2 separate regions of the Homo sapiens genome follow, and region 2 is linked to region 1. A link means that fine-mapping ties the variant in region 1 to the expression of a gene that starts in the linked region. Tissue or cell type: B cells. Region 1 holds a variant in brackets; the other region holds the start of a gene. All regions are shown on one strand. Distances are between the middles of the regions.

Region 1 (7,883 bases):
CAATAAACCACGTGGAGCACTGGCCTCCACCCAAGCCAGTAATCCAATTATGAAGTAGACAGCAACACTTGGAGATCAATGCATCACCCGGCAAACAGAAAACCTAACTCCTATCTTGTTTTAAGACCAACCTTGTTGTCACTTTAGGCAGCCTTCATGGGAGCCCCCCATCCCCAATGAATTAGATATCCCTCTACTGGGCTGTGCTCCTGAGAGCTCCTGCATGAAAGGGTTCTTCCACTGTATCAAAATCCAAATCATTTTGTGCACATTATCAGTCCCTATTAGAGTAAGAGCTCCTTGAGGGCAGGGGCTTTATCCCCTCATCTTTAAACCATCACTACCACCATTGGGATGAATATTAAGCAAAGGGAGAAAGGGAACAATAGAGAAAGGATTGGGGGTGAAGGGGTGGGCAGGGGAAAGAAGAGATTGAGGATGGATTTGCTACAGGTTAGAAAGATGTGTGATAACAAAGTTAGGGCTACCTGCCTAATATTTTAAAGACTGACCCTATATGTGTTTTAAAAACCTTTTCCTGTCTATTTCAATTTCAGTTTCATGGGTCCATGAGTCCATTCCATTATCTATATAAGCTGTACCTATTAGGCAGGTCTACTGTTTCAAATTTCAAAATCTCAACAGAGACCATGATAGGTAACGAATTGCGTTTAAGTATAAATATACAACTAGTTGTGTATGAAGTGCTAAATTCTTTTTGATGGTAACAGTGAACCATGGCTACTAATCATTGCATTAGATGCTCAATCTGGAATTAACTTCAAGGACAAGGTGCTTCTTGATCCAGAAACTTGGGTCTAAGGTGCATCATTTCTTATACAGCTCTTGAGCATGAATTATAGTGCAATTATAAGAAGTGTCAATTTGGTTTAAGTGGGTCAGCATGGTTATATTTAGCCCTTTCGTAGCTGACACTAAGACCTTTCTGTAATTTAAGATTAAGGTTAATTTATCCGTTCTTCTTTTCTTGAATATTTTTTCCAGGTCATACATCTAAAGTTATGGAAAATTATGCCATTAAAATGAGAAGTATGAGTTTTCATCAAAGTACCAAACAGGGAGCATATACAGAGGTAGAAATCACATGCTTCTGTAACAATCGGAATTTCCTTCCATTGCTAAGATCAATTCCAATTATTCCACACATCGGAAGATATGTCAGGGAGGACATGAAGTTATTTAGTCAAGGAGTTCTATTAAGTTATATCACTTCTATACCAACAAAAAGTTTAAAAGAAACGTTAATTCATAGGGGTATAAATATAATGTCAGGCATGACAAGTGTTAACTCTTACTAGTTATCATAAAATGTAATTAAAACATCAATCAGGCTGGGCATGGTGGCTCACACCTATAATCCCAGCACTTTGGGAGGCAGGTGGTGCACCTGAGGTCAGGAGTTCAAAACCAGCCTGGCCAACGTGGCGAAACCCCGTCTCTACTAAAAATACAAAAAATTAGCTGGGCATGGTGGCAGGTGCCTGTAATCCCAGCTAGTTGGGAGGCTGAGACAGGAGAATTGCTTGAACCCCAGAGATGGAGGTTGCAGTGAGCCGAGATCATGCCACTGCACTCCAGCCTGGGCAATAGAGTGAAACTCTATCTCAAAAAAAAAAAAAAAAGAGAAAAGAAAAAAAACACATTAATTAGGTATCAATTTACCTGTTTCACTGGTAAAGATTAAAAAAAGATAATACTCAATGTTGGTAAGGACATGGGGAAGATAAGTACTCTCTACTAACTTTCTGGAAGGCAATTTGGAGAAGGAAAACATATACATACATAGACCCATATATGGTCACATACATATATATACATGTAGTAGGCACATATGTGTACATGTCCAAACACATATATAAATGTATGTGTCCATATATACATGTACATATAATATATACATAGATATATTTGAATTATAATTTAATATGCAATATTTATACAAAAGATACAATCAAGTATGCACACAGATTTGTGGATATGGAAATTAATCTCAGAATTGCTTATAATAGCATAATGTTGGGAAAAAGCCAAAGGTACAAGATGAGGGCAATTGTTAATACATCCTAAAACAGCCACAAAATAGAATTTTAGAAAACCAGTAAAGAATTAGAATTACAGTAGGCTGAATAATAGATTCCAAAGATATCCAGGTTCTAATCTCTGGAACCTGTGAATATGTTACCTTATATAGCAAGAAGAGTTTTGCAGATGTAATTAAGAATCTTGAGATGAGGAGTTGGTCCTAGGTTATCCAGGTGGGCCTTAAATATAATCACAAGTGTCTCTATGAAAGTGAGGCAGAGGGATACTTGAAGAAGGCAGCAATGTGGCACTGAAATGAGATGCTAGGCTGCTGGGCCTGAAGATGGAGGAAGGGGACAAGAGCCAAAAAACTGCAAGGAATGCAGCTCTAGGAGCTGGAGAAGGCAGGGAAACAGATTCCACCTCAGCGCTTCTAGAGGGAGCTCAGCCCAGCCGACACCTTGATTTCAGCGCACAGAAATTGATTTCGGACTTCTGACCTTTAAAATTCTAAGAGAATAAATAAATATAAGCTAGTTTTAAGCTAGTTTGTTATAATTTGTTATAGTAACCAGAAGAAACTAAAACAATGATATTTTTAAAAAATATGTAATAAATGGGAAATGCTCCTGAAGTAATATTTTAAAATCAGAAAAAAATGAAGTTCTATGATCTACATTAAGATATTATATATATGGTTATATACGAATAAAAACGATGGAAATCAACAAAGTATATATATATATATTTTTTTGAGATGGAGTTTCACTCTTGTTGCCCAGGCTGGAGTGCAATGGCACGATCTCGACTCACTGCAACCTCTGCCTCCGGGGTTCAAGCAACTCTCCTGCCTCAGCCTCCCGAGTAGCCGGGATTACACGTGCCTGCCACCATGCGCAGCTAATTTTGTGTATTTTTAGTAGAGACAGGATTTCACTATGTTGGCCAGGCTGGTCTCAAACTCCTGACCTTAGGCAATCCACCCACCGCAGCCTCCCAAAGTGTTGGGATTATAGGCGTGAGCCACCATGCCTGGCCAACAAAGTATTTTTAATGAACATCTGTCAGTACAGAATTATGATTTATCCTCTTTTATACTTCTCATGTTTTTTTACAAGTTTGTGTGTGTGTGTGTGTGTGTGTGTATGTGAGTGTGTTTTGAGAGAGCATCTTGCTGTCTCTCAGGCTGGAGTATAGTGGTGAAATCATGGCTCACTGCAACCTCCAACTCCAGGGCTCATGTGATCCTCCTGTCTCAGCCTCCCAAAGTGTTGGGATTACACATATGAGCCACTGTGCTATGCCTAGGTTGTTTTAAATTTAAAAAATTTTCGTCTGGGCATGGTGGCTCACGCCTGTAATCCCAGCACTTTGGGAGGCCGAGGCAGGTGGATCAAAAGGTCAAGAGATTGAGACCATCCTGGCCAACATGGTGAAACCCCGTCTCTACTAAAAATACAAAAATTAGCTGGGTATGGTGGCGGGTGCCGATAGTCCCAGCTACTTGGAAGGCTGAGGCAGGAGAATCACTTGAAACCGGAGGTGGATTTTGCAGTGAGCAAAGATCACACCACTGCACTCCAACCTGGGAGACAGAGTGAGACTCTGTCTCAAAAACAAACAGACAAAAAAATTTCTGATTTCCAGGAGCCACACATTTGACAGTCCTATTATCATGACCTGAAAGTTCAAGTTCCTGAGAATTTTAGAATACTTTGAAGAGTTTACAAACTTAAGAAAACAATACACACTTTTACTCTGGTATTTTAATAAAATTTGATTGATATTTTTTGACACACGAAATAATGCATATGCATTAATAAAAGCTCTATGAGTCTTGGAAATAAATACTAAAATTGCTTTTAAAAAG[AAGT/T]CTTTCCTACTCTCAGGAATTCTATAATATAAAAATGAAAAATATCTCTGATTTCTAGATATAAATCCTTACTACCTTGTCTATGGCAACTGGGCAAACGGGTATTTTCAAAGCCGACTGGGCTTTAAATCCATGCAGTGCTTTGCTTTTGTTTGAATATATGTGTCATTATTTGCAGATTGGTGAGGCTGTGCATTTATGTGAACAGTTTTGAATTCCAGACCTGCTTCCCTCTGTCATGTTGTACAATGAAAAAGCTTTCTTTCACTGCTCAAAAAAAACATGAACTCTTGAGAAGCAAACTTACTTTTAACATTATCTAGACATGAATATAATAAAAATAATGCTCTTCATTTCAAAGAATTAAATAGCTATAATTTGGGATTACTTCCTCCTTTCTCCAAAACACCCTAACTTGTTATTTCCCATGAGACTAGGTAATTCAGTTTAAACTGTCTGTATATAGTTAGACTGAGAGTACTGAAAGGTAAAGACGACGTTTCTGCTGCCAACCATAGAAATATTCTTGTATTCAATGTACTGTCATACATGTTATAGAAGACAACCATATTAAAGTTCCTGGTGATCAAAAAACTTTCAAAGAGAAGTTACTCCAGTTAATAGGAATGAGAACAACAGCCAGTCAAGTTACTCAATATAGTGACAGGTGAGTGACAAATGAATGAATGTGAAACAAGAATTGTCTTTATAAGTAGCTTTTAGGAAATGAAGTACGTACAGAATTATTAAGAATGCTAATATACGAAGGAGAAAGAAAAACAAGGCCAGAGGACATGTAAACAGCAGCAATAGAAAACTGAAAAGAAAAGCAAATCCCATTTAAAAGTGGCTGAAAAATACACCAGATTGGAAAATTGGAAAATAAAAGAAAATTGGGTAAAAGTTTTCACTCTGTATAAAATGATAAAGGAACAATAGATTTTCATGTCTTCTCCTCACTTGCCATGACCCTGGTCATGGCTTCCACGATCTCTTGTGTAGATTAATGCGGTACCGTTCCTTCCTCTTGGTGCTCCTCACTGTCAATGTGAAACCATTCTTCCAAAACTGCTCAGCTCAAACAGGTGCACGCAGTCATATCACTCTCCCATGAAACAAAGTTGAATGGGTCCCCATTGTTCTACAGCAGTATTTCTCCACACATGGTTTCTGTCTTATCATCATTGAATCATCTGGAGTGCTTGTTAGAAATGCAGATTTGGTGGGGTGGGGGGGGGGGTCTTCTGCACACCCATTGATTCTATAATTCTGGAAGTACAGCCCAGAAATCTGCATTCTACTAAAATGTCCAGGTGATTCTTAAAGTTTGAGAGGTACTCCACAAAAATATCAAAACCTCTTTTAATGGAATATTTTATGCTATAATCCCTTGTTATTTCTCCTGCCTCATCCCTTAACAAGTGCCCTCTGTTGTTTATGTGCCTGTCAGAAATACTGGATTACTTTAAGCTCCTCAGACACAGTAAGCTCTGCCACACCTCACTGCCTTTGCACATCCTGTTCCTCTTCCTAGAATTTCCAGCTCCTCTGCTTGGAAACCTGCACATCTTTCAAGCATGAGCTGTAAGGTCACCTCTCCAGCAAAGTGGTCCTGACCTTTTCCTGCAGACATAAATGGTTTTTCTCCTGGCTCCCCAATGAATTTTATTCATATGCATGCCTCTTTTTTACCAGTCATTCCACTGCAGCACAATTATGTGTTTACAGGTCTAATGCCCTACTATGCTTAAAGCTCTCCAAGTACAAGGACCGTTTCTATTCATCTGTGTATGTCTCAAAGTACACACCAGACACTCAGCGGAATGAATGGTTGCACACACATTTTTCTAAGGTTAACTAAAAACAAAAACAGTTATTTTTCTATTTTTCCAACTTCTACAGATAAGCCCTGAGGGATGCTTCCAAAATCAGGTTGCCTTTGTCAATTGGCTGGATGATTTTTCTTTTAAAGCACTGTCATTATTGACAATCTTCGTAATGAGTAATAAAATGATCAATAAAAAGTCCATGATATTCAGGCATATTTAAAAGGTTTATTAATAAATGAACCAAACGCCACTATTGGGTTTTTACTTTCCTTCCCAATAAGTATGGCTGAAGTAAAGTGTAGTTTGTCTTCTCTAAAAAGATGAATAAAAACATGAACTTGAGCAGGGTGACCTTTTTCCAAGGTAGTAACTCAATCCTGCTGGAAACATGATCAACACACACAGCCATAGCAGAGAAAAGATGAGAATCAAGAGTGCTACATCAACAGTGCTCAAGGTTTGCAATCTGCTGGCCACCACCTCACAGTCTGGGGCTCCTGGCTCACAAATGTCAGCTTACCCAGTGAAACCTTCCGTCGCACTTAGGAGGAGTTACAAAGTTGAACAGACTTCAGATCAGCTCATCTGAGTAATGTTTCACAATCAGTTCCCTCTGTTCATCTCCTCTCCTAGCACATTTCTTCCTCTTTCACAACTGCCCGTTCCTACATCTTGTTCTTGCCTGTATTGCACAGACAATCAATCTCACCTAAGGCTTTAGATGAGATTGATAAGTAAGAATTAACGTTTAGTTGATAACTTAGAAGATGTGACCATCTAGCTGGCTTTACAGTTTAAAGGGGACTGAAACTTTAAGATGAAAGTGCAAGGTATAGGTGATGGGGAAAGTCTGCCCATGACTTCGGAAGTCTGAGTTTAGTAGATGATGCTACCCATCAGAATTTAGAGACAGGCTTCCCAAGGAGTGGTAGCTATCACTCCATCTCCCTAATTCTTTTCATTAGAGAAAACCGGAAGTGAAGATGCGAAACACTGAAAAGGACATCAGTTCTTGATATAGACACTATCTCTTTTATTTTCCTCATAGTTATCAAGAGTAGATGACTTATTTACTAATTATGCAGACACCAAAAATGATCATTATGAAGATTATATAGCAGCATGGTAATGCATTACATGAAAAAACAACAGAAAAAAGTGCACCTGTATTACGATTGCAATCATAAAATCACGCATGCATACAGAAAAAGATTTGCAGGCATCATGGAAAACTGAAAACAGTTCATCCTACATGAGTTATTTATTTCTGCTATCATTGTTTTAATATATATTAAATCACATTATATAACTTGAGAGTGATTTACAAGTCTTTAGTAACTTGCTCCATGACTGTATCTGTCTGCCTTGCTGCCAACTCATCTTCCCTGAAGGAACTGCAGCTACCTTCAAATAACACTGCTTGATGCAAAACACACAGAAAAAAGCAGGAAGGCCCAGGCTGTCTCTGGTGAGGGCTCATGGAGGCACATCCTTCAATCGTTCAAAAATCCTAAACCATAAACTGCCTGGGGCTAAAAGATAAACATAACCACATTTAACATCTAGAGTGGCATCAGATACTGCCAGAGTCCTTTCTCTCCCCTTTCAAAATAATCATTTTTCTATTTATCCTTTGTATCTAGTGCTATAGCTTCAGAAACATTACTGCAAAAATCATGGCTCGGAAAGATCCATCCAGTGATTTTGTCCCAGAAACAGGATTGGATATACTTCAGTGAGCTGCCAGGTATCTGTAAAGCACCTAAAACTTGAGGTATTGTCTGTTACTTTCAGCTTTACTGGGGAGTGAAGTTCTTTCAGCTTTATTGTGGAGTGAAGCCTGCTGCACATAATGGAGAACACTGGCCCAGTCACTCAAATCACAAAGGCTATTTCGTATGTGCTTCAAAGATATAAGACAGGTAATATTCTGGGTGAGTCTAACACTCATCTATCAACATGGGACCCAGGGGTTATGCCCATCATATAACATGTAAGTATCCAAACAAGGGCAATTTTCGAGGAGAAAGGAAAAAGAACTCTTGGTTCTTTTTTGGCATTTCGTAAATATGAGCCATACCAAAACTACTGAATTTTTTTCAACTTGCTACTCTCCAAGGGAAGCAAATGAAAGAACA
Region 2 (7,883 bases), 400 kb after region 1:
AAAGTCAGATACAGTTTCCTTAAACAAAAGTCATGCTGTATGTCTAGCTGTCATGTGTTTGACATAAAAACTACCATTACTGTCACATTAAACTACTGTTTTTAAGACACCAAAAGCTTAAAGGGTAGACTTAAGTGTGTGAGACTTTGGAAGTTTATACAATTATTGACAGTAAGATAAAGTAAAAAATAAGTCAAACTCTGTTGACATTACTAAATACATTCAAAACAGTTTTAACAAGGTTGCCAAAGAAATTAGCACTGCCCTAATATACTAGAAGCTTGAATTTTACTGCTTTTCAAAATTTGATACAATGTTACTGTAAACACACACACACACACACACACACCCCTTTAGAAATAATCAATTTCCCAAGCTAGACATAACAATTTTAAATGAACCTCTTTCCATTTTTTGAGTTGCACACAAGCCTTTTAATGCTTTATACTCAGTGCCTTTCTACAGTATAACATTACACTCACATCGCCTTGTCACAAAATAACTGGAGACAAATAAAAACTGTTTCCCAGTTTATTCCCATTTTATGAGTATAAGCTAAGTAGACATAGCCTCCGATTCTCTGACAGTAGGTAGCATATAAGTTATGCAGCAATAAAATAACAGGACAACCCAACTTTGTATTCCTATTTTGCAAAATGTCATCAAAAGTGACCTTAAAAAATTAATATTTACTTACACTTACTTGGCATTTGATGCTATATGTTAGCTACTGTGCTAGGATTAAATTAGATAGCATGTGTAAAATGCCTAACTCTAATGCTATTATTCCCATTAAAGGTAGGAAAGCTGAGATTTGCAGAAGTTGAATGGTCCACAATCCCACAACTGGTCAAGGTGGCAGAGCTAGAAATCAAACCCACGTCTTTCCACTAAAATGAGTGTTTATCACCCAGCATTCCCGAATCCTCTGGTGTGCTTTTTGAGGAGAGGGGCAAAAGAGGTTTCATTTGCTCCTTAAAGAGGCCCACAACCCCACAAACAGTGAAGGTGAACACCCCCCTGCCCCATACCATCACCAGTGTAAGAACCAGAAAATGCACACTGGACTTCAACCCCTTTCACAAAGATTATCACTCCTCTACTCCATAAGAGGGGAAAAAACTACATGGTTTGGTTTTCGTTTCACTTTAAAATTCTCAGAGCAAGTCAAGATTTTGCTCCTGGGAAATTTCCAGCATCCCATGCCGCAGGTTAAGTTACATAATAAATTGCAATACTGTATCAGTTTACACGCAATTCTGAGATTTCACAAATAGTGACCCATGTTATTTAATCATTCCACTTTCCAAAATGTGTTTCAATCAACCAGTTCTCACTGCATTGCCTGTGAAATAAGTTATCATTATATCCACTTCCAACAAAGCAAAGCACTGTCACCCTGAGGCCAGGCAATAAATCAGCGACAGAATGGGGATCAGAAGTTCCCCGACAACATCCCTCCCCACCACCTGCAAGACCATGTCACTTACCATGGAGCACCCTCCTAGCTAAATAGAAAACATAAAGCAACTAACTACTCTCCACCAGCGGCAATACTAAATTAGGAACTATTGGTGAATCATTAAGTTAGGGTACACCCCCAGCTTCCCAATGCCAGTGTGCTCATCTGTAGAAGTGGAGGCAGAAGTTAAGGGGCAAACACGTGGCACATGCCCCGCACCTTGAAAGGGAGATGTAATCAGCGAGGAAGGCTGGGGCAGTACAGGGTTTGATCATCTCCGCTAGGATGTAGCTCTGCGGTGGGTGAGGAACTCAGCAAACTCCTGACATCCCGCCGCTAGGATCGATTTGGAGCTATGGATTCATCTGAAATTCCTGATTCGAAACAGGAGTATGAGAGTGAAAATGAAATTTACCTTGAAGCTCCTCCTTTTACAGATTATGGAACTGAACCTCAGAGGAGTGAAATGATATACCCAAGGTCTCACCACTCAGTAGCAGAGGCAGTTCTAGAAAGCAGGCCTCCAGACCCTTATCCAGGATCCTTGCAATGGGGGCTTAGGGGAATTAGGGAATGGGTCATGGTTACTGCAAGTGGCTTGGCCAAGAACCAGCTAAGCAGCTAAGGCTTGTTCCATCTCTGCCAAGCTAGGACTCGCCTCCTCTCAACCTTGTGCCACATCCAGTTTTTGCTTCCAGGCTGGGGGCCTCTGATTGCTTACTCTAAGGGACAAAGGCAATTATTTACTAAAGCTAACCCCATCCAAGATGAGGAAAATACAACACTGGCACTCAGGAATTAATTTCACAATAAGTCTATGTTAAGGTGATGTTTTATTTGTGGCCCTGCCTGATCAAGATGACTTCCCCACAAGAAACGTCCAAAGCAAACAATCTTTTTTTTTTTTAAACTGAGTCTGGCTCTGAGACGTGAAGAATTGTACACTTCTTTAACTGTCCTCCAAAAGCAGAAAATAAGCCGGACAGAGCAGCCAGAAGGACACCAGAGTCCTATGCTCAGTGTGTCAGGAAGCGACCCACAAGTTCTGGAGGAACATCCTTCCAGGAAACTGGGCAGATACAGATCCCCCACCCCGCTCCGCCCCGCAAAAGGTAAGACGATCTGTACTCGGTTTGGTGACAAGCGTTCATCTGGACAAGCTGGAAACAAGTCTGAACGGGAGCTGCAGGCGCGCACGCCAGCGCCACCGAGGGAGCGCGGGGAGTCCTCTTCTCCCAGAGGACCGACGCTGCGGGGACGCGCCAAAACCACCCGCGGGCGATCCCAGGGGGCTGGCGCCACTGAAACCTCCGCAGGCAACTCCGCGGCTACCGCTGCCCCCCACCCTACTCCTGCCTCTTACCCCCAAGGCACCATTTCTCCCCCTCAACTCCCTGCCCCTCGGCCCAAGCGCTTCGGTGGGAAACAACGCCCACTTTGGAGAATCAGAGGTGAGTTGTGGGGACACGCCAGATGTCCAGATCGCATCCTTTCACAGATCAACCAAGTCAGATACAAACACGAAGGAGTTTGCTTCTCTGACATTTTAAAAACACACCATCAGGCAGCACACTGAGACACACACACGGGGGTAACAGCCACAGGGAAGTCAATAACCCACAGGGGGGCTCCTAACTATCGTTGTCCCGTGCTCGGGGCAGAGCGCTTGGGGTCCCTCCCTATCTCCAGGCCACAGCGCTCTCCTGCCCACTGCCTGTGCGCAGGATGGGAAACTACGGTCGCCCGGCTGCCGGAACCCAGAGTGGGCAAGCTGGGGAAAGGCCCACCTCCTCGTCCTGCTCCTCCTGGGACGCGCTGCTGCCCCGGGGCGCGGGCGGCACAGCTCCTCCGGGAAGCGGCGGCGGCAGCGCAAGGACTCCGCGCTCCAGCAGCACGCTTGCCGGAGCCCACGCGGCGGGCGCCCGGGCGCCCAGGGTGCCTCCCAACGGCGGCGGCGGCGGCGGCTGATGCTCTCTGGAGAAGCCGCCGGGCTCCCCTTCCTCCGACAGAGTTTCTGAGCCCGAGGAGGACTCGGCCGAGGAAGCACCCGGAGAGGACGCGGCGACCAGCGCAGAGGCTGGAGTCCGGCTGCCGTGGCCACTGCAGCCGCGGGGCACCGGCTCTGGCGCCTCCGAAACTTTCTCCCCCATTTCCCTGTCTGGCCCAAAGTGCCTCCCGAGCGGCGGGGGCGCGGCGCGCACTCAGCGCCTCCCGGGGAAGACGCGGGCTCCTGGGCTCAGGCTCACTGGCACTGCCGCTCCCGGGCTGCAGGGAGCCCCGCCAGCGACTACATGGCAGTGACGGGGCCGCAGGAGCCCGCTGCTAAGTTCACAGCCGCCCGGGCCCGGCCGCAAACGGAGGCTCCCGCGCGCGGGGACATGCCCGCTCGGGTCCGCGATCTGCGCTCCACTGTGCTCCCGCGCTGCACCCGAGCCGCGGGTACTGCGGCTTCTCCTTGCAAAACCTGCCTCCGGGACGGAGCAAGGAGACGGGCAGCCCGCAGAGCCAATGGCAGGGCAGGCGCGCTGGTGGGCGGAGGCTGCGACGCCTCCGGCCATGAGGGCCTCAGGTAGGGGAGGCGGGGCCCGGGCGCGGGCCGTGGTCCCGCTGGAGCGCCTGGGCGCAGGGGACAGGGACCAGGCGGGGGTCCCCGGAGGGTGGGGGCGGAGCCCAGAATCGGAGCCAAGGGCTGAGACTCCGAACTTAGCGGGGGAGTGGCTGACCGTCCTTGGGACGTCAGAGGGAGACGGCGAGCGGATGGTGAGACCTTGGAGAAGAACTGGACTTTGTCTCCAAAAAGTGGAATCAAGAAAACGGACAAGAAGGAGGGCTCTATAGGGAAAAAAGGAACCACACACACACAGTCACCCACGCACACGGACTCACCAGCGTGTTGGAGGAAAAGGACAGAAACTTCGTGGTATAGTGAGCGGACCCAAAGGGGAGTGACCTCTAATCTCTGCTTTTCCGTTTAAGCTCTTTGGGCCTCAGTTTCCTCAACTGTAAATGGCTACATTACTACTGGTCTTGGCAGGCTTAGAGCAAATATATATAATGCATCAGCAAAGTGCCTGGCTTGGATACACGGAGCGTTTTTAAAAGACTATTTCCTGTCTTTATTTCTGTTTGTAAACTAAAAAGTTAAGTCTGAGACTTGAACCTTTTGATAGGGAGGAAGATAAAAAAGTATGTCCTTGTATTTAATTAGGACCAAGCTCTGTAGTCCTACTCAAATTGTCTGTCTCGGTATGATCAGCTAAGCAGAGGATGAAAAGGATTCACTTTCCAATGTACATTCTCCTAGCCCTGGGTTGTAAACCAACAGGATACAGGACAGGTTGCTTCATTTTCCTTACCTCTAAGAACTAGGAGAAAGAACTTTCACTAAAGGTACCAATAGAGTACCCTTAAGTCCTTCCCTGGGGCTGGAGGATGCTGCCTGTCCGGTGACTGGAATTTCCTTGGAAGCCAGCACTCAGCTCAGCAGTGGGAAATAAATGATTCCTCTCTTGCCTTCAGCTCTAGTCCCATTCTGAGCTCTGGCACAGTGACCTGGGATGTAAATTCAACCGCCTCAGTTCCATGTACGTTGATGGAGATGTGTGCCAGGTGCAGGGGATACAAAGATTAATAAGTCAGGTCCCCTGCCCTTGAGCAGCTTATGGTCAAGCGAGAGATTGATACTGCATAATATAGCTCCCTTATCCATTTTAGAAGCTGTGATAAGTGATACAGGAAAAATGTGTGAGGGAGAAGAGGAAAGAGTTACAGAAAAACAGTAGCAGGTCCTTGAGCATCTTAGATTTCTCTTTGTCAGAGCAGCCTTGCCAAAGGTCCTTAAAAACTGGAGGACCCTAATTGAAAGCCCCTTCAGCTAATGAGCCTTTCATGCTATCATGGTATTTACAAGTGATACATCACACAGAGGGCTTCATCATATTGGACAGCAACCTTTGTCCTGATCAGTTTCCTCCCCTCAAGATGAAGGGGAAGGAAATACGTTTTGTCTATCTTGCTTCAGACAGCCATACTGCAAAATGGACTCCGGTTGTCAGGCTTTCATTGTGACGCTTCTGAATTATTCACAGGGATATGAAGACCTGCTGAGGCAAAAGGTCAAGTCTAGTGGCAGCTAAGTTGTGAGAGCAAGGCTAAAGAGAGAGCACAGTGGGGCAGTCCGAATTTAACCCGGGCCTCACAATTACTTTCCTATTTAGGAGTTCTGGTCTTTATCTGAGCCCCTACGTGGTTGATTCACCAGAGCTGAACTGAAATGACAATTTCAGCCATGCACATAAAAGAAGAGGAGGAGTTGCTTTTCAGTACATAGGGAAATAAGAAGCAAGGTCATGGTCTGAATAACCGACAGCAAGAATGACAATAGTTATTATCGCCTGAGTCCTCTGCATCTTCTCTGGATGGTCTCATTTAATCCTGGCAACAACCTTGTGAAACAGATTCTATTAGTCCCACTTTATTGATTAAGAAACTGAGGATCTGCAAAGGTCACACAGCAAGTAAGCAGTGGAGCTGTGGTTTGGAACCCAGCAACCTGATTCCAAGGCTGTCTTTCCTAGGCATTCTAGTATTAATACAATGCCACTCAAAACAGACAGCTTTTTCAAATATATATATATACCATATTATAAATATCCATAGGGAAGAAACTTTGCTGTATTGATTCAATCTGTAAAAGAAAATACTTGAGGAACATATTTGTTTTTCCCACAAACATTTTTAAGGTACTTACTATGTGCCAGGCAGGATTTTAAGCACTTTAAAATGTTAATATACTCAATTCTCATACCAGCCCAATGAGGTAGCTACTATTACTATTCTCATATCATATTTGTGAAATATGTGAAAACTATGACAGAGAAGTTAAGTAATTCAGCTAAAGTCACACAGCTAGCAAATGATGGACCCAGGATTCAGATTTGAACATTTGGTCCCAGCATTTGTGCTCTTAACCTCTACAGATCAAAGTCAAGTACTAGATCAGTATTTCTTGAACTTTTTAAACCTGAACCTCAAATAAGAAATATATTTCACACTGGAACTCATGACACATATGCATATGTACAAATACAAATAAAATGTCATGAGACAATACTTACCCATCCTTTAAGCAATGCACCCTGAAATTTATATTTTATTAAAAATAAAGATGCTAGTTGTAGTCCACTAAATAGATTTCAAACTCTACTTCAAAACTTGCAGTTTAAAAGTGTACTTGTTCATCTCCACACCCACCTGTGAGGGAAATAAACTGTAGTTCAGGCTAAGAGTATCCAGACCAGAACATGGCCAACTCAAAGGATAACTATAAATAGAAGATGACTAGAGAGTCAGGATAGTTCCCCAAAAGTATCCTAGTTAGACCCATGGATAAATTTCCTGGGGTGTGGCCAAACCACTGGACCAAAATCAGTTTTGATTTATCCAAATCCTGAAGTTCAACTTTCCTATCTTGTTAATTAAATAATAAATATTTTCCTCAGTGGTCAGAAATGTGCCCCCTCCAAGAGACCTTTTTATAAACGTGTCTAGTGTTGGAGACTGTGGGACCAGAGGTGAGTGTGAAAGCACAGGTTTTTCTCTGCAGTGTCACCATAGGCAGGAGCCAGAAAAATAAAAACAACATCATCACAACTCCTGAAAAGCCAATAGTGTAGCGTCACATGACAGAACCAGACTAGCCTAAGGCGAGGAGAGACAAGGTCGGTGTACTCCAAGGTAATCAGTTTCCATGTGTTCTGTGAGACATGCTCACAAAGTATTTGATTCAAGGACAGCACCCCTGGGAATCCGGTAAGTATTCATTGTGTTTTGTGATTGAATGCCCCCCTCCGGTTTCTATGTTTTTCTCAGAAGTGACGGGAGACATTTCCTCTGGGAGTCTCTGTTGTCTCTGCCAGTCTCTGCTGTGTAGGTGAGGCCTATTGTGAATGTCAAGCTGTCTCTGCCAGATGGACGATGTTCCAGCAAAGTCATCATACCCTTAAGTCTACTCCCAGTGTCATGACCTTTCTCCCAAACATCAGGTTGGGAGGAAGGTCAGTTGTCCTTCTTTCTTACATAGATGAAATTAGAACATCATGAACTCAGAACGAACATTTTTGCAAAATCACAAGTAAATATGTTTCTATTTAATGCACTAAAAATCCTAAATATCAGATTATCTTTGAATTATGAAGATGATTATATTATCCAACTTTGGTAGACTATTTTTATTATCATTGTTAATGATGGATTTGCCTACTCCCCTATGACTAATAAAGTACAATTTCAAGACAAAGTAAGCATCTATCAAAAGGTGTCTGTTGAGATGCGCTAGATTGGGGTTTCCGATTTATACCCGAGGGTGTAGCATGATACAGACCATGGAAGTTTCTGATCATCCAGCCAGGAGGAAAAGCCC

Alleles and levels. Positions count from the first base shown, and alleles are read on the strand shown. Sizes are in standard deviations (SD) of each study's normalised expression.
With allele AAGT in place of T in region 1, the expression in B cells of the gene that starts at base 3,875 in region 2 is lower (large effect, 1.0 SD a copy in Schmiedel 2018).

The links. PIP is the estimated chance that this variant, and not a neighbour inherited with it, causes the effect.
Region 2: MAST4 starts here. The variant in region 1 is fine-mapped to the expression of MAST4 in B cells (Schmiedel 2018, PIP 0.95).

Annotation. Positions count from the first base shown.
Region 1 is chr5:66,991,194-66,999,076 of GRCh38, reverse strand. All of the region lies in intron 4 of MAST4 (microtubule associated serine/threonine kinase family member 4), which reads right to left. Among named protein-coding and RNA genes, the nearest start is that of MAST4-AS1, 9.0 kb to the left of the region's middle. The variant AAGT/T (reference allele first, on the strand shown) is at 3,914.
Region 2 is chr5:66,592,385-66,600,267 of GRCh38, reverse strand. It overlaps MAST4 (microtubule associated serine/threonine kinase family member 4), which reads right to left and starts at 3,875. Exons shown (of 29, transcript NM_001164664.2): 1 at 3,250-3,875. The coding sequence starts at 3,612. RefSeq lists silencers at 3,130-3,279, 3,290-3,429, 4,040-4,239.